Linked DNA regions of Homo sapiens. The protein of the gene in region 2 interacts with the protein of the main gene of each other region in a pairwise test. Each region holds a gene or a part of one and is shown on either strand. Other genes may lie near its edges. The genes, in order: PAK6, TPD52L1, EIF3J, GPR135, PBX3 and ABL2.

Region 1 (3,917 bases), on a different chromosome or scaffold from region 2:
CGGAAGCAGTCCAGGGAGCCTCTTTGCCAGTCCTCCAAGGGGAAGGCTAGGCAAGGCCTGTGTCCCTACACCCACTCCCCAGTGGACACCTGCAGGCCAGGCTCCTGACTTACCTTGCTCTGTGGTGGAGGGCCTGGCTTGCTGCTGCTTGGAGGGGCTGTGGCAGCAGTGGACAGGAACATGCTTCGGAATAGCCTGCGCTTCAGGCTGCTCTCCCGGGTCTTAGGGCTAGGGCTGCCTTCCCCACCTGGCCTGCCTGTGGCTGAGCCCACCAGGCAGGACTGTGGCCGGGCCTCCTCAGAGCCATGCTTGGCAGCCTTCATTCCATGCCTATTGGTGCCCGTGGGGGGCGAGGCTCCTGGTGGGGAGCTCTGCAGGCAGGCACCCAGCTGCAGACAGCGCTGCGAGGCACCCTGAAACTCGGCGGGGCCCAGGGACTGTGCCTTTGCAGCCAGCCCATTGGGCAGGACCCGTGGGCTCTGTGGCTCGGGCCACGGCATCTGCTTGTGGCCTGCTGGTGTGCCCCCGTTGCAGCTGAGGTAGAGGCCGTGGGGGTCAGTGCGCTCAGACTGGGGGCTCTGGAGGTACATGTCTGGGTCGGTGGCCCAGTGCTCATCCCCCAGCAGCCCCAGGGACTGTGCCCGCCGCCGGCTGGTGGGGCTGCGGCCACGCAGGGTGTTGGAGCTGATGACTGACAACTTCTGGATGTCGTTGAGCAGCCCCGAGATGTAGCCATCCACAGGCATCGCGCTGCCCCGCACCACTGTCTGTAGGGGGAAGAGAAAAGAGTGTGTGGGAGCTGCCCAATTGTGGCAGGGAGGGGTGGCTGGGAGATCAGGGTCAGAGAATGTCCCTGGGGGCCCTGGGGAGGACCACCTAAGGACCTTCCCTGCTGTGTCATCCACCCATTAATTTTTCCATAATTTATCAGGGCCCACCGTGGGTCCCGCCTGTGCTGGATGCAGGGATGCGGGGAGAAGGCCCAGCGTCAGCAGAGCAGATGGTGAGTGCCATGGGGCTGCATCCAGCATGCCCAGGGGTGTGGTCGGCTGGGCCAGGGAGCTGGAGCTCAGGGGGCGGGGCTCCATTCTCTAGCTCCACGGGTGGCTGGGAGAGATGTGCCCAGCCCTCTGAGGAAGAGACACCAGGCCGGGGGCTCCTCCACACACACTGGCTTCGCAGCCTCCAAACCCTGATAGGGCCCCTGACCCCACCTTCTACCAGGCTCTTGGGTCTACTAGTCGTGACCCTCACAACTAAAATTCTCCTGGTCTGGGAGAGCCCTCAGTCCCTATGGGGCTGCAGGTCCAAATATTGAATGGGACACGTCCTAAAAGACTATTCGTTGTCATCTGAAATACAAATGCAATTGAGCATCTCACATTTTCATGTGCTGAATCTGGCAACCCCACCACCCTGCAGAGAGGGTCTCCCCAGCCTCCTTCGCCCTGGCTTACCCAGGGAGAGAATGGCAGGCTGACAGGCAGGGAGTTAAAACAGCTGATTAACTGATAGCTGTGAAGTAGGTGGTTCCTCCAGGGGCCTTTCTGAGGTTTAGCCAGGCATGGTTGTCTGAGTACTGGGAGAGGCTGAACCTCATCCCTGCCGGCCCCTCTTACCTTCATGGGCTGGAGCTGCACCCGTGTGATTCGCGAAGGGTCCACCACGGGCTTGGGGCGCCGCAGTGTGTCCAGGATGTTCTGCCATTGTGGGGGGAGGCCCACAAACTTGCCTTCTTTGGGGTCGAAGGAGGTGTGGACACGGTGCTGGAAGTTCTGTGGCGCTGAGATCTCAGGGCGTTTCTTCTTTTTCTTGCGGAACATGGTGCCTGTAAGTGCAGAGTAAGGTTGAGCTCCCTCCCGGGAAAGAGGGGTGGCTGCAGCAGGGCCTGGGGCACCAGGTTCAGGGCTCCCTCCCCTCCCCCAGCACAGCTCCCCTAGAAGCCTAGGGCTTCCCTCCACCTCCATCTCTGCTTCCTCAGGGAAATGGCTGGCTCCCAGCAGAACAGTCCCAGAAACAACAAACGTGCCATAAATAAGCCAGTGCAGACTATAAACAAGGAAAAGAGGTGTCTTCTTGCCTGTGCCAAGTCCCCTATGGAGCAGGCAGACTCTGGGGGTGTGTTTTTATAAAATCCAAAGCCCATTACAAGTATCATTCCACTGTCTGTCAACGAATTTTAAAAATGGGGAAAGAGGGAGGAAAGTTAGCAAGCTTGTTTTATGAAACGAGTATGACCTTGATTCTTAAAACCAGATAAGGAGAGTGCAAGAAAAGGAAAATTTGACTCAATATCATTTAGGAACGTAACTATGAAAATCTTAAAACTATCGAATTGAATCCAACAGTATATTAAAGTTATTTTTTTGTTGGCTTTTTTTTTTTATTACAACTCAGCTTTGTCCCAGGATGGTTGAACCTGTTAATATGATACGTTAATAAAAAGCCAACCAGCTGATCACAGACATGCTGCCCGGTGTGGGACTATTATGTATCAGGGAGCCCCCAAAGGGCCTTCATGGTTACCATGTGCTTTACCTCAATTCCAGAAAGGCCCTGAGCCAAGAGGATAGCCTGGGGTGGGTGAGGGGCAGCTAACTTAGGGGTAAAGCTCTCCAGAGAAGGCAGAGAGCACCACCTCCCCTTGACACTCTTCTCTCTGGTATTGGAGCTCTATGTAAAACATCACCTGGGCCGGGCATGGTGGTTCATGCCTGTAATCCTAGTACTCTGGGAGGCCGAGGCGGGTGGATCACCTGAGGTCAGGAGTTTGAGACCAGCTTGGCCAACATGGTGAAAACCTGTCTTGACTAAAAATACAAAGAAATTAGCCGGGCCTGGTGGCACGTGCCTGTAGTCCCGGATACCCATGGGGTTGAGGGAGGAGAATCGCTTGAACCCAGGAGGCTGAGGCTGCAGTGAGCTGAGATTGCCCCACTGCACTCCAGCCTGGGCAACAGAATGAGACTCTGTCTCAAAAAACAAACAATAAAACACTTAACCTGCAATCAAGCCTGTGTCCCGTGCCTTGCTGATTCTGGCTTTGCCTAAGGTCGTGCTGAGCTGCATACACAGAAGTGACACAGGCTTGCAATGGATAGCATGGGTAGATCTGAGAGTGGGGAACTGGGGGCCTGGGAAGGGGAGGGACACTTCCAAAGGGTTGCTCTAGTTTCGCCTTCAGGGGATCCCGGACCTGGGATCACATGTTGATGGCAGACAGGGCCAGGGCTGCCTCTTGAATGCTTTTGGATCTGAAGAGGCTCAGAACAGCTCACTGGGTTCTTATGTATCTGAAAAGGTCACTTCCAGGCTTCAAGAAACTGAAACATGATTCTTGAACTGAAAGCTTGGATTACTCATCCGCCCGAAGATCTGGAGTGCAGGGCCGTCATGTTCTCTTTTGGCTCTTGCTATGGAAACAGCATTTTCCTAGTCATTTTGGCAGGTTCTGAAGGAGGTCGCAGATCTGGGAGGCAGCTGGCAGAAAGGCAGGGACCCTGGACAGCCAGTGGTTCCCCACTAGGAATTCACCATGCGTGACTCAATCAGAGCCCACGTCACATCTCAATGTCAGCCATGCTTCTGGGTCTTGAGGTTCGGGATCCACCGAACACCCCCTAGAGGTAGAGCCACATGTACAGGACCCTTACAGACCAAGCCCTTTGGAATAAAACAACCTGTGTGAGTTGCAGATGAGTTGTAGGGAGTCTCCCACTAATAATTTGGAGAGATTTTGAACAAATAACTGAAATGATCTGAGCCAGGGGGGTTAATGAAAGACAGCTCATAGGGTTTAGGGTGTGTGAAGTAAGCAGAGTCCCCATACATGACGGTTGTTTCTCTTGTGATGTCACCTCTCTTTGAATCCCTGTCTTGAAGCTCAGGCCCTCCAGACACTGGCACTTGGGCAGATA
Region 2 (3,552 bases):
ACAATCAGTTTGGCAATAGCAACATTATTTATTCTATATCTTCTTTTTCCTTCAAAGTGTTTTTTCTACATTATGAAAAACAATGGGAGGGAAGGCCAGTGTGACTATTAATAAGACTTGCACTAAGCATTTTGCATCTTGTCAAGCAGACCATATTTTTAGTGCATCTACTTTTTGATAAATACATTACATGGCCTGGACCAAAACCTTAAAAAAAAAAAAAAAGGGCAAGTTGCATTACATGTTTTTTTTCCTTTTTGTATTATGAGAGATTAGGAAGCCAGTTTTAATAAGGGATTTTTAGCAGTTTTAATAAGGAATTTTTCAAAATACTTAGCCTTATTTTTAAATTGTAAGTTAATTCCTTCATGTTTCTATGCTTAGTCAATAACAAATACACAAGAAAAAAGCCTCATAAACCATCATAACTGCATTGTAAGGAATATTCATACTGTAAGGGTGTATTAATTCCATTTCACGCTGCTGTGAAGAAATACCTGAGACTGGGTAATTTATAAAGGAAAGAGATTTAATTGACTCACAGTTCCACAGGGCTGAGGGGGCCTCAGGAAACTTACAATCATGGCAGAAGGGGAAGTAAATATGTCCTTCTTCACATGGTGGCAGGAAGGAGAAGTGCTGAACAAAAGGAGGAAAGCCCCTTGTAGAAGCATCAGATCTTGTGAGAACTCACTCACTATCACGAGAACAGTATGGAGGTCACCGCCCCCATGATTCAATTACCTCCTACCAGGTTCCTCCTTGCTAGGATTATGAGGACTATGGGAACTACCATTCAAGATGAGATTTGGGTGAGGACACAGCCAAACCATATCAAAAGGCAGTTGCCTAAGATGATGTGAAATCACCAGTGATTAAGACTTGATCCATCTTCAATTTTCAAAGCAGAAACCAGAAATCATTTTCCATTGAGCCACTCTGACTTTTCAAAAGACATTTGTCAGAAATCCAGTTTGCCCTGCTAACTCCCAAGTAGAAAAATCTAAGTTTAGGTCATGTAAGGATGTTTATACATTTGTACAATTGGAGGAATTAATAAAAAATCTAATTCCATTTTGATTAGATCAGTTCTCTGGGTGAGTGGAGATAGCTGTTCCAAGTCCATGGATCCGATTATGCTCCTGAAGGGATTAAAATCTTAGATACAGGAGAGATAAAGAGAGGGTTGCTAAAAGTGTGCAAAATTAAAGTTTGGAATCCTATCCGAGAACCCAAGTATGAATAATATTCTAGCACTCTACTAAAGGAAACAAACTTCTGTGCATTCTTTTGTCTCTAAAGATAGAAAGTATTTCTGAATTTGAAAGTAATCCAGCTTTTGGTATTCTTATAAAAACATTACAAAAATGATAGTAACAACTAACTGCATTTTTGTGGATCTGCTCATTTCAGACGAAAGTAGGCGGTACGAACCCTAATGGAGGCAGTTTTGAGGAGGTCCTCAGCTCCACGGCCCATGCCAGTGCCCAGAGCTTGGCAGGAGGCTCCCGGCGGACCAAGGAGGAGGAGCTGCAGTGCTAAGTCCAGCCAGCGTGCAGCTGCATCCAGAAACCGGCCACTACCCAGCCCATCTCTGCCTGTGCTTATCCAGATAAGAAGACCAAAATCCCGCTGGGAAAAACCCAGGCCTTGACATTGTTATTCAAATGGCCCCTCCAGAAAGTTTAATGATTTCCATTTGTATTTGTGTTGATGATGGACCACTTGACCATCACATTTCAGTATTCATAGATGACTGTCACATTTTAAAATGTTCCCACTTGAGCAGGTACACAACTGGTCATAATTCCTGTCTGTGTAATTCGATGTATATTTTTCCAAACATGTAGCTATTGTTTGCTTTGATTTTTGCTTGGCCTCCTTTATGATGTGCATGTCCTTGAAGGCTGAATGAACAGTCCCTTTCAGTTCAGCAGATCAACAGGATGGAGCTCTTCATGACTGTCTCCAGCAATAGGATGATTTACTATAAATTTCATCCAACTACTTGTGATCTCTCTCACCTACATCAATTATGTATGTTAATTTCAGCAATTAAAAGAATTGATTTTAATGACTTTGAATTCTTAATTTCTTTGTCTTAAAAGTTGCTAGTTATGATTTTACAGATGCAATTTTAAATCAACTTTTAGCCAGGTGCGGCGGCTCACACCTGTAATCCCAACTATTTTGGATGCCAAGGTGAGAGGATTGCTTGAGGCCAGGAGTTAAAGATCAGCCTGGGCAACACAGACCCTGTCTCTACAAAAAAAGAAAAAAATTAGCCAGACATAGTGTTGCTTGCCTGTAGTCCCAGCTACTCTAGAGGCTGAGGCAGGAGGATTGCATGAGCCTAGGAGTTCGAAACTGCAGTGAGCTATGATTGCACCACTGCACTACTCCAGCCTGGGTGACAGAGTGGGACACTGTCTCCAAAAATAGTAATAATAAGTAGTCAACTTTTACTGCTAATTTGGTGAACATGAGAGAGGATATGAAAATAAATATTACCTCAGCTATCCTAGGATGTTAAAATAATCTCCAATTTTAAAATTCTCTCCAATCTACATACAGTAGTAGTTAGTCAGATAAAGGATATCCAAAAAAGAGATAGCTAGAAAATGGGAGAAGCAGAGTTCTGCAACCCCTTTCAGTTTGTAAATTGTTCACATGTATGAAAATAACTGGTATTTATCAATCCACTCAGATTTCTGCACTAACTTTTATCTTATATATCATATGTATCTCTTTTCTTTTTCTAAATGGGAACATATATTTGTTATTAGGTGGCAGAGATATAGCCTTAAGATATATTTGTAAAATGCACACTGAATAGACATCCAACCTAAAAAAAATCACTATTTAAAAAGCCCATATAATATATACATATTTGTTAGCATGCTAATTGTTCATGTTTTGTGTTTATTAAATAGAAGTGATATATATGACATTTTGAAGTAAAGCACATCTGAAAAATTCTACTCAAATTAATGGAGCATGACAATCTGTGCAATCTGTACACCTAACTGAAAATCAAGGTGGTTCAGGACAACATCATCTCTGAGGCCTGGAATCTTAGCAGAGAGAATGGGGCTGTAAACTTGACCAGAGTGGACAAATGTAGACAAAGAAAGCTCACTAGCAGGGATGCTGGCATTCTCCCTTATTTGTGCTTCCAGCCTGTTGGTTGAAGTAGAGGCAGGAAACCAACCCTGCCCAGCTGGTTCTCAGGCCGTGCTGGCTCGCCCACCACAGCACACAAGTACTCAGTCTCTGTGCCCAATCTATAGCTGCCTGTTGAGTGTGAAGTGGCTAACTTGTGAAAACTCCCTGCCACCTTCTTTTTTTACCATATTCAGCACACCGCATTGTATTAGATAAAGTTATGGTACTTTAAACAAATATCTCCGTTCACCAACCAATTTCTGCACACCATAGTCTCAGCCTTATAATCTGAAAACACAATATTAGAATTGGATAGAAAAACAATCAAGAAAACTTGTGGTAATATCTTAAAGCTTCCAACACATTTTAGCTATTTATTTTATTCCA
Region 3 (3,917 bases), on a different chromosome or scaffold from region 2:
GCAGGAGAATCACTTGAACCCAGGAGTGGGAGGTTGCAGTGAGCCAAGATTGTGCCACTGCACTCCAGCCCAGGTGACAGTGCGGCGAGACTTCGTCTCAAAAAAAAAAAAAAAAAAAAAAAAGAATCAAGGCCGGCTTACGCCTGTAATCCCAACACTTTGGGAGGCCAAGGCAGGCAGATCACCTGAGGTCGGGAATGCAAGACCAGCCTGACCAACATGGAGAAACCCCGTCTCTACTAAAAATACAAAATTAGCTGGGTGTGGTGGCACATGCCTGTAATCCCAGCTACTCGGGAGGCTGAGGCAGGAAAATTGCTTGAACCCAGGAGACAGAGGCTGTGGTGAGCCGAGATCGCGCCATTGCACTCCAGCCTGGGCAACAAGAATGAAACTCCGTCTCACAAAAAAAAGTCAACAGCTAATCAAGCCTTCATGGATCCCACTCTCTAACTCAGGGCACTTTAATCCCAGCACTTTGGGAGGCCGAGGCAGGCAGATCACTTGAGACCAGGAGTTCCGAGACCAGCCTGGCCAACATGATGAAACCCCGTTTATACTAAAAAATACAAAAATTAGGTGGGCATGGTGGTGCACGCCCGTAATCCTAGCCACTCAGGATGCTGAGGAACAAGAATCATTTGAGCACAGGAGGCGAAGCTGCAGTGAGCCAGGATCGAGCCACTGCACTCCAGCCTAGGCAACAGAGACTCTGTCTCAAAAAAAAAAAAAAAAAAAAAAAAAAAAGATCTATACTCTGTTTTTTCTATGCCTAACTCAATCATTGAGCTAAATATAAACCAATTATCAAACACAATTTTCTAAAAGCTCCACAGAACTTAGAAGGCTCAAGTTTAATAGGGACAGACACAGCCCTATGATTAAAGATGGCTTTAATCATAGGTAGCCTGGCCATTGTCTCAGCAGCCACCAGGCACACTATGACATGCCATTTGAAGCTGAGTGGCAAGATGGCAAAAGCAGGGCAAGAGGCCCTGATGCTACTAAAGAAGCAAAGGCTGACTAGTATGACTAATATGCCACAATATGACACCAAGCTTCTGGTTTCATAACACGACAGATCACAAATTTGTATCAGTCTAGGAATATAAACTAACCAAGCCTTGGTTCTTAATAAAAATCTCTAAGTCCAGTAAAGAAATTAAAAATTCAACATCCTGATTAAGGCTGTCATACAGTCTGCAAGCATAATTAAAGGAACTTTGTATTAAAAAGTAAGTGTATTTTTATATTCATCTTACTTCAGCAATTTAACCCACAGCTCGCAGTTTTAACAGATTGAAAGCAAACCAGCTAGTCATTATTTGAGTAACTGTGATACTAGAGTTAGAAATTAGAGATCAAACGTTTGTATTTCGCCGTTAGTTTGCTAAGTGCTATACATCACAGTACAAAAGGAACCAAAGAGCTAAAAATAAAAGTGAATTACTAGGCATTTTTTGTTGTTTAAATCTTCACAGAACACAGGAAGGCTGGATCTGTGAGTGATAGGGGGCAGTGTTTCAGATAGGAGGACCATTTGCTTACTTCCAGAAGATGCATATTTAAAACCCTTCTGAGAAACAGGTGTAGTAACAAGGTTAATTCTCACAACAGTCCTGTAAGAAGGTAGTGTTATTCCCCCATTTTAAAGAAAAGGAAACCCAGGCCCAGACATAGCCAACCCACAATCTCAGTGAAAAACTAAGGGACCTGCTCTGAATGGACCAAAGTTCTTTAAAGTGTCATAGGTATAAAGTTACAGTTAGAAGAATAAGTTCTGGTGTTCTATTACACAGTACGGTGATTATAGCTAATAACAATGTTATATATTTCAAGATAGTTCCATAAGAAAATTTTGAATGTTAACACCACAAAGAAATGATAAATGTTTAAAGTGATGAAATGGTAATTACAATGTATACATGCATTGAAACATCACAATATACCCCATAAATATGTACATTATTTGCCAATTATAAAAACTAATTTTAAAAAAGTTTTAAATAACTAAACATTTGACTGACCTTTTTATTGAAAATAAAATGATTTACTTTTTTAAAAAGCATGTTTTAAACACTTGCTTACAAAGTTCACGGTTTAGTAGAGTTCAATTCACTGTAATAAAGCAGCTTACAACACATCTTTAGAGTAACATGCTGAGATACATCCTTTAAATGTATACATGTAAACAGCTTCATTTAAGGCTTTAAACACAATGTTAAGGAAGGTCTTTAAAAAGCATGTTTTAAACACTTGCTTACAAAATTCACAGTCTGGTAAACAATTTAATTCGCTGGAATAAAGCAATTCCAATGCAATTCCAATGCAAAATAATAAAAATAAAAATAGTATTATAGTAAATATGACTTCTTCCCTGAGTCCTGAAGTATAAAATAACTAACTGGGAACTAAGTCCCTCTCCTGGGAACTCTGGGAATCTCATAAAGAGAAGGATTATTACACATATTAAGATATGCCCAGCTAGAGGTATACTGGTTACCAAACTTCTCACCTTAAATTGCCTGTAGTGGTTCTCTACTGATCTTTTTTTTTTTTTTGAGATGGAGTCTCACTGTGTCGCCAGGCTGGAGTGCAGTGGCGCAATCTCAGCTCACTGCAACCTCCGCCTCCTAGGTTCAAGCAATTTTCCTGCCTCAGCCTCCTGAGTAGTTGGGACTACAGGTATGCACCACCATGCCTAGCTAATTTTTGTGTTTTTAGTAGAGACCGGGTTTCACCATGTTGGCCAGGATAATCTTGATCTCTTGACCTCGTGATCCACCCACCTCAGCCTCCCAAAGTGCTGGGATTACAGGCGTGCCTGGCCCCTCCCACCTTTTTTTTTTTTTTTTTTTTTAAATGGAGTTTTGCTCTTATTGCCCAGGCTGGAGTGCAATGGCACGATCTCAGCTCACCGCAACCTCTGCCTCCTGGGTTCAAGCGATTCTCCTGCCTCAGCCTCCCAAGTGGCTGGGATTACAGGCATGTGCTACCACGAACTGGCTAATTTTGTATTTTTAGTAGAGATGGGTTTCTCCATGTTGGTCAGGCTGGTCCTGAACTCCCGACCTCAGGTGATCCACCCACCTCAGCCTCCCAAAGTGTTGGGATTACAGGTGTGAGCCACCACGCCTGGCCAGTTTTCTACTAATTTAAGAAACTGGGCCAGATGAGTTGGCTCACGCCTGTAATCCCAACACTTTGGAAGGCCAAGGTGGGTGGAATACCTGAGTTCAGGAGTTCAAGACCAGCCTGGCCAACATGGCAAACCCCTGTTTCTACTAAAAATACAAAAAAAATTAGCAGGGCGTGGTGGTGTGCACCTGTGGTCCCAGCTACTCGGGAGGCTGATGCCCAAGAATCACTTTGAACCCGGGAGGCAGAGGTTGCAGTGAGCCGAGATCACGCCACTGCACTCCAGCCTGGGTGATAGAGAAGGCCTCCGTCTAAAAAAAAAAAAAAGAAAAGAAAAGAAAAGAAAAAAGAAAAAAACTGGTCTGCAAGCCTCTGGTAGTAAGAGGTCAAGAAGGAAGAAGTATGGCTGAAAATAAGGAGCTCCATCTCAATACCTCCAAGGTAAAGAAACAAACTCAACACAGGAGCATTTTTATTTAATGTTGATGCTCTTCAGTTACCCTTCCCAGAAAAACATAACCCCCACCCCACCCATATCACTGCTCCCTCAGTACATTCACACCAACTCTATGTCCACCTCTATCCCTGTCCCTAGTTTCTCCCATCAAAGCATAAACCTTACCCCAGACACACATCAATGCAGACATAATGAAGCTACCTAGACATTCCCTACTCCATCACAGAATGGATTTTAGTAGCAAAAGAAGTGATTCTGGCCAGGCGTGGTGACTCATGCCTGTAATCCCAGCACTTTGGGAGGCCAAGGCAGGCAGATCACG
Region 4 (4,605 bases), on a different chromosome or scaffold from region 2:
TAATAAATACATTATCTTCGACAAGTCATAGCTATAAAGCAACCATCAGCTATTTTAAAAAATACAAAATATACCAAATTTCTAAATGTAGGAGGGTATGATCTATTTGGAAAAGTCTACGCTAATTCCAAGAGGCTGCTTCTCAAAATAGTTTTAGAATTTCTCTTTGGAATCGTTTTCAGTTAGCTAAAAGCCACGTAGGAAACCCAACCTTGTTGTTTTATAGAGGTCTCATTTTAAAAAATAATAAAAATTTAAATAAAGTGGCATCACTCACCTTATTCAATCAACTTGACTTCAAATTACATTTTTGGCTATATCCAAAAATCAAATTTACCTCAAAAGACAAAAATTTTCTACAATGAAAATATTTTTTTAAATGTGAAAGCATTCTGAGAGCAGCATTCCAAAATTTATCAGAAATAAAAGTAACAGGTTAGAGTAAGGATAAAACTTCAAAGTTTTCCAAGGAAGATCATTTTGGAGGTATGACGCGGGTGGAAGGAATGTTAATTTTTACATATAATCTTGGAAAACATTTAAAAGACACATTTCTTTATGTTCATACTTCTATTTGTCCTTCAGATGGTTGAATTTTATCTAATAATAACCAGCTTTTCAAAATCCTAAAATGATTTTAAATGGGTTATGAATTAAAAATTTTCCACAAAGGTTATTAGGGGGTGGGGTGAGGAGGTGCACCAATGTGTGTAAGGATAAGACTTTTCCACTTGCAATCTAAGCACCCAAAGCATGTCAGAGGTGCAAGCTCTAGAAGCTAAAGTTTTGTTGGATGGTAGCGATTTAGAGGGGCTTTCAAGCAGCTCTGAAGGTCTCCATTCATTCCTGAAATTCTGTGTAGTTGAACAATACTGGTTGCATTCAATGTTTTGTTTGTTTCACAGTGTGGTCCTATAATATGAGCTTTTCAGTTATAGTGAATGTTATTTTTGTCATTTTTGGCACTTACAGTTCACAATGCTTGGTTATGTGGTTTAAGATTGTTTTAATTTTTGCATTTTACATTCCTTTTGGCACTTTTGAAGAAGGGACATTGTCTTTTATGTTGTTTGGGGAAAGTGGTAAGCCTCCCCCGTCTCTAGCTTTAAATGTTTGGCTTTATGAAATCCACAACTCTCCCCCAGAATCTTCCATCATTAAATAATGCGAGTGGAAATTTGCCTTCATAAGCTGGCCATTCCAACCGTCTTAGAGGCTGGTATCCCCAGCTTCGGATTTAGGCTGTTTGGTCACTGCCGTCACCGGCTCTGGTGGTCCCTCTCGGCAGAAAAGTACAACTGGATTTTTGCGGGCCCACATGGCCACGTCCCCTGCCACTCCGCTGGCCGGGTTGGAAGAGGACATCCTGTTGCAGGCCCCCAGCCGGTTGGCATAGCGGTTTCGAAGGCGACTGCGGCTTCTGGCTTGCAGACCCGGGCCCTGGCTGGGCAGGAAAGCGTCCACATTCCTAGTCCGGTAGCCCTCCTCGCGGTTGCGCCCTAGGAGCATCGAAATGTTGGGATTGCGGATGGCGTAGATGACAGGGTTGATGGCCCCATTGGCCCAGGTCAGCCAGACGGCCACCACGCTGAGGAGCGAGGGGGCCTGCATGGTCTGGGCCTGCCGGGCGGCGGCCAGCAGCACCAGGAAGCAGTAGGGCCCCCAGCAGCAGATGACGAAGACGATCATGATGAGGACGGTGGTGGCCGTGCGCACCTCGCTGAAGAAGCGCAGCACGCGCGCGTAGGTGTTCACCGGCCGCACGCGCACGTCCGACAGGCGCACCGTCTTGCAGATGTGGTAGTGGCAGAAGCACATGAGCAGGAAGGGCAGCAGGTAGCAGGCCACCACCAGCCCCACGCTGAAGGCCGCGCCCAGCTGCGCGGGGTCCGGGGAGGTCCGGTAGAGGCAGCCGTGGAAGCTCTGCGCCGCCGCGAGTTCCCGGGGCGCCCCGAGCAGCTCCCAGGGCAAGGAGAAGCCCAGGGCCGTCAGCCAGGCGCCCGCCAGCAGCTGCAGCGCGCGGCGGCGGCCGATCTTCTCCCGCGGCGGCCGCACGATAGCGCAGTAACGGTCCAACGAGATGAGCGCCACGCTGAGCGTGGACACGATGCCGAAGCACGAGCTGAAGAAGCGGCTGGCGGCGCAGAAGCCGCGCCAGGGCCCCGCGGCGGCGGCAGGCGCCGAACCCCCGGGCGGAGTGAAGAGGTCCAGGAAGGCGGCGGGCAGGCAGAGCAGCGCCGTGAGCAGATCCGATAGGGACAGCGACAGGATGAAGGCGTTGGTGACGGTGCGGAGCTGCCGGTGCTTCACAATCACCCCCATCACCGCGCAGTTGCCAAGGCTAGACAGCAGGAAGATGAGCAGGAGGACGAGCGCCTGGGCCGCCACTGCAGCTCCGTGCGACAGCAGCGGCGCCGCCTCCGGGCCTAGCGGCCGCCTCACCGCCGCCCCCGCCTCCCGCGCTGCCCCGGACCCGCCAAGGCCGCCGCCACCGGGAGCGGCAGCTGTGCCGCCTCCGCTTGCGTCGCTCAGGTTCCCCAGCGCCGCGGTCGCCACGGTGCTGAAGGAGAGCACGGCCGCCGTGGCCGCGGAGGAAGTCCCGCCAGGTGGGCCGGCCGCGGAGGGGGCGCCGGAGTGCTGGCTGCCCAGTAAGGCCATGCTCGCTGGTGGGCGGGGCGGCTGCGGCTCCTCCATGGGGCCCAGTGGCGGCCGCGGATCTCCTCATCCCGCACCGGGGGCGGCGGCCGCTAGGTCGGAGTGGTGGCTCGGGGCCGGGGGCTAGCGGCCGCCGCGGGGAGCTGGGCTCGGCCGGAGGGGTGGCGGTCGCTGGGGACCTGGCGGAGCCTTTGACGTGGGTTCCAGCGTTGCCGAGGGAACCGCGTGTTTACGCAGGAGCGCGGGGCGGGACGGCAGCCCAGTACCCGCTGCAAAGCCGACCCGCGACACCGCCACTCCGGAGGTTACCGGCCCGGGTGTTCGGGTTTCCGAGAGTGCCAGGTCGACCTCCTGAGGGACCAATGTCCGGCCAGATAAAGTGCCGACTGGCATGCAAACAAATGACCAGATTCAACGAAAGTTCACTCTTGCTCTCTTTTGTAGGGTACAAATGTTCTACAGGCAGGCCTTTTGGGGAGTGGTGGGGGGGGCACTCTGCTTCCTGTGGGTGCTTTTGGTATATACAGGTAGGAAAGGAATCTAGAAAGTGAAGTGAAAGAAAAATCCAGAAGTCTACATCCAGACATCTTAAACTTGAGAAGCAGACTAATTTAAACCAGTAATTCTCAAACTTGAGCTAACAGAATTCACATAGAGGGCGTGTTAAAATACAAGTGACGAGGTCTGAACCCCAGCGTTTCGAATATGTCTGGGGAAGTACCCAAGAATTTGTATCTCTAACGGGTTCGCGGGTGGTGATGATGATGCTGGTCCCAGGACCACACTTACAGAAGCACTGATGTCAAGAGTTTCATAAAATGCAGATTCCCAGGCTGACAGAATTACTAAGGATGGGCCCATGACTCTAAACCCCGTAGGTGATTCTGATACAGGTGCTCTGAGGAGCTAGGATAGTTCCTTTAGATGTTACTTCATTTCCAAGGGCCTGGACCTCAGGCCCCTACTGGCTGATAAATGGGGGGAGAGGGATTGGTGCCTTGCCCTGCTAGCAGCCTTCATCTGTTCTCAGGAATGGGGTATGTTTTGAGTCTAAGGTGCTGCCAGCCTGGCAATCACCACAGATGCAGCTCCAGGTACCTGGCTGGGAGATACGGGGAAAAGAAAGGCAGGGCTACCCAGGGAAGTTGCATCTCAAGTTTCTGGGCATGGCCTCTAATGGGGAAAAGTGTGATAAACCCTCAGGTTAACTAACCCTGGGCTCTTCGCTAAAGCAGTGGTTCACAGAGTATGGACATTGGACCAGCAGCATCAACATCCCCTGGAAACCTTGAGAAATACAAATTATCAGGCCTACAGTGCATAGGATACCCCTGATCTACTGAAACTCCTGTGGTGGGGCCCAGGCACCTATGTTTTAACAAGCCCTCCCAGTGATTCTGATGCACAAATTTGAGAAACACTGCTCTAAAGAATGACTAGTATATTTGTAGATCTTAGAATCAATGGTATTAGTATTGGAGTGCTTATTTCATTCAGAAAAAATATCCTACAGGAAATTTACAGTATAAATAGAAGAACGTTTAAGGTGGCAAACCAAAACTGGGTTTGTCAGCCTAAGCGTCATGGACTTTTGGGCCAGATAATTCTTTATTGCAGGGGCCATCTATACATTGTATGATGTTCAGCAGCATCCCTAGTTCCTACCTACGAGATGCCAGTAGCACCTCTCCCAGCTGTGACAACTAAAACTGTCTTCAGATATTGCCAAATATCCTCTTGGGAGCAGTCAATGCCAGCTTAATCTAGACTGATTTTGTCTTAATTTTGTCAATCAAAGCAAAAATATAATTATCATACATTAATTTATTTGGCAAACACAATCTTCTCAGATTGTGCTTAGTTTTAGGAAACAACATATAAGATAGGAAACCCAGCCCAAATAAGCTTAAGCCACCGGCCAACACAGTATATTACAGTGTGCTAAATATT
Region 5 (3,917 bases), on a different chromosome or scaffold from region 2:
CTGTTCTTAAAAGAATTGACGGTAGCTTTAGGTTAGCATATAAAATCAGAGTTGGTGATCAGTTGAGTACTTGGCAGCTTATAGATGTTATGTCATGTAAGTTACACTAGACACAAAGTGTGTACCACTGTGGATAAACAACAACAGGCACAGACTCAAAAGAGAATCCAAATACAAACAAGCAAGGTGCCAACTTCCTTTTCCCCTCTTCCCCAAGAAGCCTTGTAACTAGTGTAGGGAACCTGCTTTGAAGCAGATTTACAGAGGTTAATTGGGCTGGGATGTTTTAGATTATGTTACACATTAATGAAAATGCTGATTTTGAGCTGTCATGACTCCAATGCTTTTTATACCATGATAATTATTTTAAAACTTTGTCTTCTGTGTTGTTGAAAACATTTTGGCAGAAAGCCTGTGTGACCTGATTAAACCTATGAATTGTCAGCTATGATCTATAGTACTCAGAAGAGGTTGCTGACTGGGCATCACTTAGGAAGTTCTTGATTTAAAAGCAAAATTAGATTGAGACTACTGTGCCCAGCACTGTATTGCCATGTCAATGGCACATTTTTAATACTGTATTTAGTATCCTCGTTTTATAGTTTGCTGGCAATTGCTTAACAATATTCATTTAATAATATATATATATTTAAGTATAGCCAGTTACCTCATAATGTGTGTATTCCTCTTCTGAAATCACACGATGGAAAAGCTCATCTAATGTTGTTTATTTTTCAATTTTTGATTACAGCTTGTGAATTAACTATTTTATGGGAATTTTAATTCTGTTTCTCCAACTGTACAGAGAGAGACAGAATAACCACCTTTGGATGAGTTGTTTTATATCCCTGTAATTATTTTCTTTCTTTCTTAAAACATTCAATTTTTTACCCTCTTCCCATTTTATGCTTAAATTATCTAAATCTGGGAAGCTTGAATGATTAAAATATTCCAGGAAGCCAGGGTTACCTTTTTCTAAGGATCTAGTCTGTGGTAAATTGAGGCGGTGGGGGGGTATTTAAAATTCTAGGGTGCATGTAAACACTATCTTAAAAATAATTTTCATACTTATTCAAACTTACCGATCAAATGTGAACAATGAAGTTCTCAGCATGAATTGTAGTACACTGATGTTGTTTGATCATTTTCTCGAATAAACAAAATACTCACACTATTTGTCCTCTGTTTCTCGCTTCTTCTCTCTCTGTCTCTCTCTCTCTTTCCTTGAAGGTCTCAGCATCAGAGGAGCCCAGGAGGAGGACCCTCCCGATCCCCAGCTAATGAGACTGGACAATATGCTTTTGGCAGAAGGGGTTTCAGGTCCTGAGAAAGGTGGGGGATCGGCGGCAGCAGCTGCAGCCGCGGCAGCCTCTGGAGGTTCTTCAGATAACTCTATTGAACACTCAGATTACAGAGCCAAATTGACCCAGATCAGACAAATCTATCACACAGAACTGGAGAAATATGAACAGGTCAGCAGCCGCCACTCTCATAGTCCTACACAAACCCTCTGTTGCTCTTCTATTAGACCATGCTAACCAATTCTGAGGGCTGTGAGGGGTAGGTGTTAACACAAATTACAAAATAAATAAGGTCAGTGCAAAAATCCAAGTGAATTGTTGGATTCATGAAAGGAAGACCCTTTGAGATTTTGGAGGAGGAGCGCTACCTATTTTATCCCATCTACTTGTTTTAGTTTTATTCATTCCGCACATTCACGTGCCCTTATTACCACACCTGCAGTCATTCTTCCCTCTCACCTCACCACTTGGTGCTCTTCAAAGCTCTGTATAATTAACATTTATGCACTAGCCTTGTTCATAAGCTTTAATCACTTTTGAAGGGAAGCATTGCACAGTGAGCTTTTCCCTCCTATGCTGTGAGCTCCAGAATCCTCCTGGGAATTAATTCTTATGGATTGTGCCAGACTATAGGGAACTTCACCAAGTAAGCAGGTTCCGGCCTGTTTCTCTGAGTATGAGACCTCCCAAGATAATTATGGGTACCCCAGGACAGGGAATGCTAGGCAAGGCATTATGTGCTAAATTCCTTATTAGAAAGAGAATATGGGTTAAAAATCTGGTTCTCAGCAATTATATTAACCATACTGAATCTCAGATAACTTTAAGTTGCATCTTTATGTAACACCAAGAAAAAATTAATACTGCTAGTTTAACTATAAAATATTACTGATTATAAAATGCTTTCACATTTCAGAGATGTTAAAATGTGGAGAAAAACAAGAGAGTCTTAGATTTAATGTAATAAAGTAAAATATTGGTGGGTCTTTTTACATATATTTTAGTTGTTAGTTTAATGCTGAAAAGCTGCCAAGTTTGAGGAATTCTCATTTGATAAGATTTGTCATTTGGAAGGTAATTTTAAAAACGTATTATGAAACATTTTATAATACATGTACACAAAAATAATGAGAATAGTATTAGATTGAACCCTATGAAATTGCTAAGTTTTGAGGCCAAAAACAGTTGAATATGGTAATTTCATAGAGTTCAACCCCAAATAAGGAATCAGAATCAGCTAGATACTTTTTACCCAGATAAACAGTTATCAACATTTTGCCACTCTTATTTTGTGTACCCAGCCCCAATTTGGTAAGAGTATTTTAAAGCAAGTCTTAGACATCCTATAATTTCACCCATGAGTATTTCACTATGTAGGCAAGTACTTTTTAAAGTCCACACACTTTAGTGTGAAATGGGAGTCCTGGTGAGTTTTGTGTGTGTTTGTGTGTATTTTAAAGACTCTTTTAAAGAGGAGTTTTAAGTTCACAGACCAATTTGAGAGGAAAGAAGAGAGATATCACATATACCTCCTGTCCCCACACATGCATAGTCTCTCCCATTATCAGCATCCCCCACCAGAGGGGTTCATTTGTTAAAATTGATTAACCTACATTGACACATCATTATCACCCAAAATCCATAGTTTACATTAGGGTTCACTCTTGGTATTGTGCACTCTATGGATTTGGATAAATTTATGATGGCATGTACCCATCATTATAGGGTCATGCAGAGTATTTTCACTGCCCTAAAGATCCTCTGTGCTATTCATCCCTCTCTTCTTTTATTCTTTCCTTCCCACTGATCCCTGGCAACCCCTGATCAGTTTTAATACTGATTTTTTCCCCTCTACATTCCCTGTATAGTTTCAATTATATATATCGTTGTTTTTTCACATTGCCTTTTCTAATATTCTGGATACAATGGTATTAAGCAAATGCTGAATCCTATCCCAGAGGTGAGTGTGTTTTGAGGAAGAGTAGAAAAATTTGTATAGCTTTAAGTTAAAAAGTAGTGTAAATTAATATTATAAGGTGTTTTCTATTTTTGGAATAGGATTTTCTGAGATCTAAAATTGTATGTCTAGTCTCATTTGTAAGAATAACTTCTTGTGGAAAATGTACAAATAAGAATTTTGGAAAAATTATCGTGTGTATGTATGTAAAAATCCCACTTTCTGATTTGACATATGAATAATTGAGAGTAAACAAAATAAGTCATGGTTGAAAAGGTTGCCCCTGAGCATAAACAGTAGAAAATGACTCTTATTTGTAGTATAATCCTAATTGTATAACTTTATGCTAAAATAACTATAACTACTTACTAGATAAACACTACCAGTCACCTTGCATGGAAAGAGATATAATATTAGAGGCCAAATGGCCTGAGTTTTTTGGCTGAGGAATTAAGGTGATTCCTTACTACCTCTTGCCATGTGTCTTTACACCTGCCTCCTTACTTTCTCCATACACTCTGGTGGAAGTTGTGTGAAGCTGGTGTCAGTCAATGACAAGGTCCTGAGTCTCACTGTTTTAGAAATATCCTACAAAATTTTCCATGAGATTTTATGTAACTTTAGCCCCAGCTTATACCAGCATCAAATCACCAGGGTTT
Region 6 (3,917 bases), on a different chromosome or scaffold from region 2:
TTCAGTGTTTTTCTAGATGACCTCTGTACATAGAGGTCATTATAGTGGAGACCCTTTACCAGCAGCATTTTAAGATTTAAATTAGATAGAAAGTTTCTTAGGATTCAACTGAAAATTGGCTAGTAAAATATGTCCCAGGTAATAAAGCATGCTGACTTTGCTAAGGCACTGCCCATTTTTATTTAACTAAAGTCATGGAGATTTTGAGTTTAAAGGATGCAGTATAGATAGTGGTTTAGTGTTTAGGCTCTAATGCCAGTCTAAAAGGCAAGTCATTTAACCTTGGGAGCCTCAGTTTCCTCACTGTAAAACAGGGATAATAATAGTAACTACCTCAGGGTTGTTGTAAGGATTAAATGAGATGATATTTGTAAGATACTTAGCTCAAGTGCCTGGCACACAATGAGCACACTCTATAAATGTTCTACTACTACTATTATTAACACCTAGTCTAGGGATGCACAGCAGAATCCCCTAGGGTTAAAAAACAAAACAAAACAAACAAAAAAAACTGACGGAATAGCCCCACTCCAGATCAGAATTCCCAGTGGGCTGGGGTCTCGGCCAGTGTATTCTCCAGTAATCTCGCCAGGTGTTTGAAACACCCAGTGCTATCTGAAAACTATCAGTACCCCAACCCTTTGGTTTATAGATTAAGAAACTAGCAGAAGATGGTTAAATTACTTGCCTATTGTCTCAGAACGGTTAATTAGTGGCGGAGCCAAGGCTAGAATTCAAGTCTCTTGACTTTATGGTTGTGGGGTCTTTCCACCATACCTGCTGCCATGTGAGACACTGCAAAAAAGTGGCTCAGACCGACAATCAGCCTGTGTGGTGCTGCACACTTTCTAAAGCACATGCTCCTGACACTTTGACCTTAAGGGGCTTGAATGTGGAGTAATGGGAACACAAGCCAAGCAAGCACTCAGTAGAATTCAGTCATTTAAAAAATTCAATGGGGTCATTCTTTTGGACAGACCTCAGCAACACAGCAATGTGCACTTTGTAGTAAAGAAATACCAACTTGAGTTTTTAAAAAACCTAGTTAGTCCTACATTCCCTTTTCTTTAAAAAAACTTTATTGTTCACATTATTTTAATGACTATGAGATAATGTATATGACAGCACTTTGAGAAAATATCAACTGTAATATAACTATAAGGTTGTAGTATTGTCTGTTTAAAAGATAAGACAGTTGATTCAATGTGGATGGACCCTGTGGGGTACCTGAAAATGTAGATACGTAAGAATCACCTCTGTCATTTATCACATTTAGAAATATGAAACTGCTTAACAGGTATGAGCAGGTATAGCAAGTGTTTGCTAAAGTTGTAGTTCAGAGCTGAATTACTTCAGGAAACTAGGGACCAACTTTTTGGTTTAATTCCGATCTTTAAAAAGTAAGAATGTGTACTCACTCCAGAACACAGAAGCTCTTCCAAGGACCTTGACTCAAGAAGGATGAGGTCCTCTTACTCTTCTCCATTTATCCACTATATGCTTGGCCATTTATCCTAAATGTGGTGGGAACAGACTTGTTATCTGTTGATGTTGACAGTGTCTTTTTTAACCTATGTCCTGCATAGTTTTGTTAGGTTTACAGGGGGAGGTGGATGGCCATAAAACCAGTGCACTTTGGGAATTACTTTTCTAGGATTTCCTACCAGTTATAAATGACATTGACATTTGTCATCTTTTTTTTCTTTTTCTAAAAAGAATAGCTGAATTTAATTCACCTATTATAAAATACTCAAAAGTAAATTGCCTTGGTGGCCACTTCTGAATTATAGCTACATTTCATTATGACCCCTTCTGCTCCCTTCCATTTTGCTACTGATGTCATTCTTGTTATCAGGCTGTGCCCCTACCAGGAGTTCATATTGGGTTGACAGGGTTATCTATATTTTTGTTCTTGATTTTTGAGTTTCATCATCTTGCATTAAATTGTTCCACCTGGATTTGGGGTTCATCTCTGTGCCCTAAGGATCTGCTATGACCAATCCTCTTTTTGTAGGTGGGTCTCTGGCTTAAGTATTGATAGGCTTCAGCGGTTTGTGTCTCTGTCTTAGCTTGTATCAAGCCAGTAGTAGCTCACTTCCTTTGTAAATTCCTGCTTCAGTCTGGGATCCGTAGGAGTATGTGAGAACTTCTGAAACGTCTCCAACTCTTAACAGTCAAGATATCTATATCATTTGGATAGAGTTCTGGTTTTCCAACTACTAGACTTAAAGAAATTCTGGCCGGGTGCGGTGGCTCACGCCTGTAATCCCAGCACTTTGGGGGGCTGAGGCGGGTGGATCACGAGGTCAGGAGATTGAGACCATCCTGGCTAACACGGTGAAACCCCACCTCTACTAAAAATACAAAAACTTAGCTGGGCGTGGTGGCGGGCGCCTGTAGTCCCAGCTACTGGGGAGGCTGAGGCAGGAGAATGGCGTGAACCCAGGAGGCGGAGCTTGCAGTGAGCCCAGATCGCGCCACTGCACTCCAGCCTGGGTGACAGTGAGACTCCGTCTCAAAAAAAAAAAAAAAAAAAAAAAAAAAAAAAAAAAGAAATTCTAATGCAAAGCTTGCTTTTTTTTTCTTTTTTCCAGCAAGCCAGTAGTAATAGTTATTGTTACTTGCTCTGTTCAGCACAACTGTAGTTCACTTGAACTTCACTGTCATTCCCTACGCTCCTCTCTTACTGAGAAGCATGGGTGGGATTCAGGGCTGTGGGACAAGCTACAGCCTACTCTGGAGCACTCACCCCCATGACTCAGTCCAGCCTGTCTCTTGGGAAGTTTATTGCAATGTGCAGACGGATGAATTTCTGCTTTTCATGCCACCTCTCTGAGGTATGTATTCTATCTTGAGTATGTACAAGATGATACCTTTTGGCTGGGCACAGTGGCTCGTGCCTGTAATCCCAGCACTTTGGGAGACCAAGATGGGCGGATCACTTGAGGTCAGGAGTTTGAGACCAGCCTGGCCAACATGGTGAAACCCCGTCTCTACTAAAAATATAAAAATTAGCCGGGCGTAGTACATGCCTGTAATCCCAGCTACTCCCGAGGCTGAGGCAGAATTGCTTGAACCCAGGAGGCGGAGGTTGCAGTGAGCTGAGATCGCGCCGCTGCACTCCAGCCTAAGTGACAGAGTGAGACACGTTAAGAAGAAAAAAAAAAAAAAGGATACCTTCATTTCTGACTCAATATCCTAGATCCAAAGGACAGGAAATTAGGGAAGGCTTCACCCTGTGGGATCAAGATAAGAAGATCCCATACTTCTTCCCAGGTAAGGAGGCCTGTGGCAGGTCATGATTCAAAGCTGACTTGGAATGGCAGAAACTGCTGAGAGGCCACCCTTGGAGATTTGTGCCTTCAAAGATGGGTTTCATGAGTCTCAGAGAGGAAAAGACTTGTCAGCTGGGTTGATTTTGCATGATTATTGAACTAGAGCTGGTAGACACGAGCTTCTCAGATGGCAGTGGCCAGATCCTCCATCTGTGAGAATCCGCCACTTGAAGTGGTTTCCTGAGAGTGTTCACTTGGCAGTTGCTGCGTTTCTCAAGCCCACCTGGCGAGGTCTCGCCGGACCCTTCCCTCCAAGTGCACTTACTTCTTCATCCCCATGTACATCTCTAACTTTGAAATTGTTTACCTCTCCTACAAAAATCTTACCTTTTGACCTGAGCAGAGTAGCAAAGCCCTGTTCACTCTGAGGGAGCAGCTGGCGTGTTGAAGGGGAAAGGCCAGGCACAGCACTGTCCTCAGACCACACCATATTTGGAGCAGAATTGTGATACATGTCATCTGTGTCTATTCTGGAAGGTTCTTTGTTCATCACTGTACTCGCATCAGCAAATTTTCAGGGTCCTACCTGTCACTCCAGGCTACTGAGCTGAACCCTCAGAAGCTGAGGTCTCCGAGCATGCT

The links.
Region 1: the proteins of TPD52L1 (region 2) and PAK6 interact in a two-hybrid assay, tested with the Homo sapiens proteins (one large-scale study listed by BioGRID).
Region 3: the proteins of TPD52L1 (region 2) and EIF3J interact in a two-hybrid assay, tested with the Homo sapiens proteins (one large-scale study listed by BioGRID and IntAct).
Region 4: the proteins of TPD52L1 (region 2) and GPR135 interact in a two-hybrid assay, tested with the Homo sapiens proteins (one large-scale study listed by BioGRID and IntAct).
Region 5: the proteins of TPD52L1 (region 2) and PBX3 interact in a two-hybrid assay, tested with the Homo sapiens proteins (one large-scale study listed by BioGRID).
Region 6: the proteins of TPD52L1 (region 2) and ABL2 interact in a two-hybrid assay, tested with the Homo sapiens proteins (one large-scale study listed by BioGRID and IntAct).

Annotation. Positions count from the first base shown.
Region 1 is NC_000015.10:40,262,692-40,266,608, reverse strand, and holds part of PAK6 (serine/threonine-protein kinase PAK 6), read right to left. Parts: intron 1,829-3,917; 5' UTR 1,824-1,828; coding exon 1,620-1,823; intron 768-1,619; coding exon 114-767; intron 1-113. Other genes in the region: BUB1B-PAK6 (serine/threonine-protein kinase PAK 6), read right to left, coding at 114-767, 1,620-1,823. UniProt on the Homo sapiens protein: Serine/threonine protein kinase that plays a role in the regulation of gene transcription. The kinase activity is induced by various effectors including AR or MAP2K6/MAPKK6.
Region 2 is NC_000006.12:125,261,421-125,264,972, forward strand, and holds the end of TPD52L1 (tumor protein D53), read left to right. Parts: intron 1-1,413; coding exon 1,414-1,542; 3' UTR 1,543-2,987; downstream 2,988-3,552.
Region 3 is NC_000015.10:44,543,647-44,547,563, reverse strand, and holds part of EIF3J (eukaryotic translation initiation factor 3 subunit J), read right to left. Parts: intron 1-3,917. UniProt on the Homo sapiens protein: Component of the eukaryotic translation initiation factor 3 (eIF-3) complex, which is required for several steps in the initiation of protein synthesis.
Region 4 is NC_000014.9:59,462,533-59,467,137, forward strand, and holds the start of GPR135 (G-protein coupled receptor 135), read right to left. Parts: upstream 2,849-4,605; 5' UTR 2,695-2,848; coding exon 1,210-2,694; 3' UTR 1-1,209.
Region 5 is NC_000009.12:125,914,456-125,918,372, forward strand, and holds part of PBX3 (pre-B-cell leukemia transcription factor 3), read left to right. Parts: intron 1-1,230; coding exon 1,231-1,472; intron 1,473-3,917. UniProt on the Homo sapiens protein: Transcriptional activator that binds the sequence 5'-ATCAATCAA-3'.
Region 6 is NC_000001.11:179,100,632-179,104,548, reverse strand, and holds part of ABL2 (tyrosine-protein kinase ABL2), read left to right. Parts: 3' UTR 1-3,917. UniProt on the Homo sapiens protein: Non-receptor tyrosine-protein kinase that plays an ABL1-overlapping role in key processes linked to cell growth and survival such as cytoskeleton remodeling in response to extracellular stimuli, cell motility and adhesion and receptor endocytosis.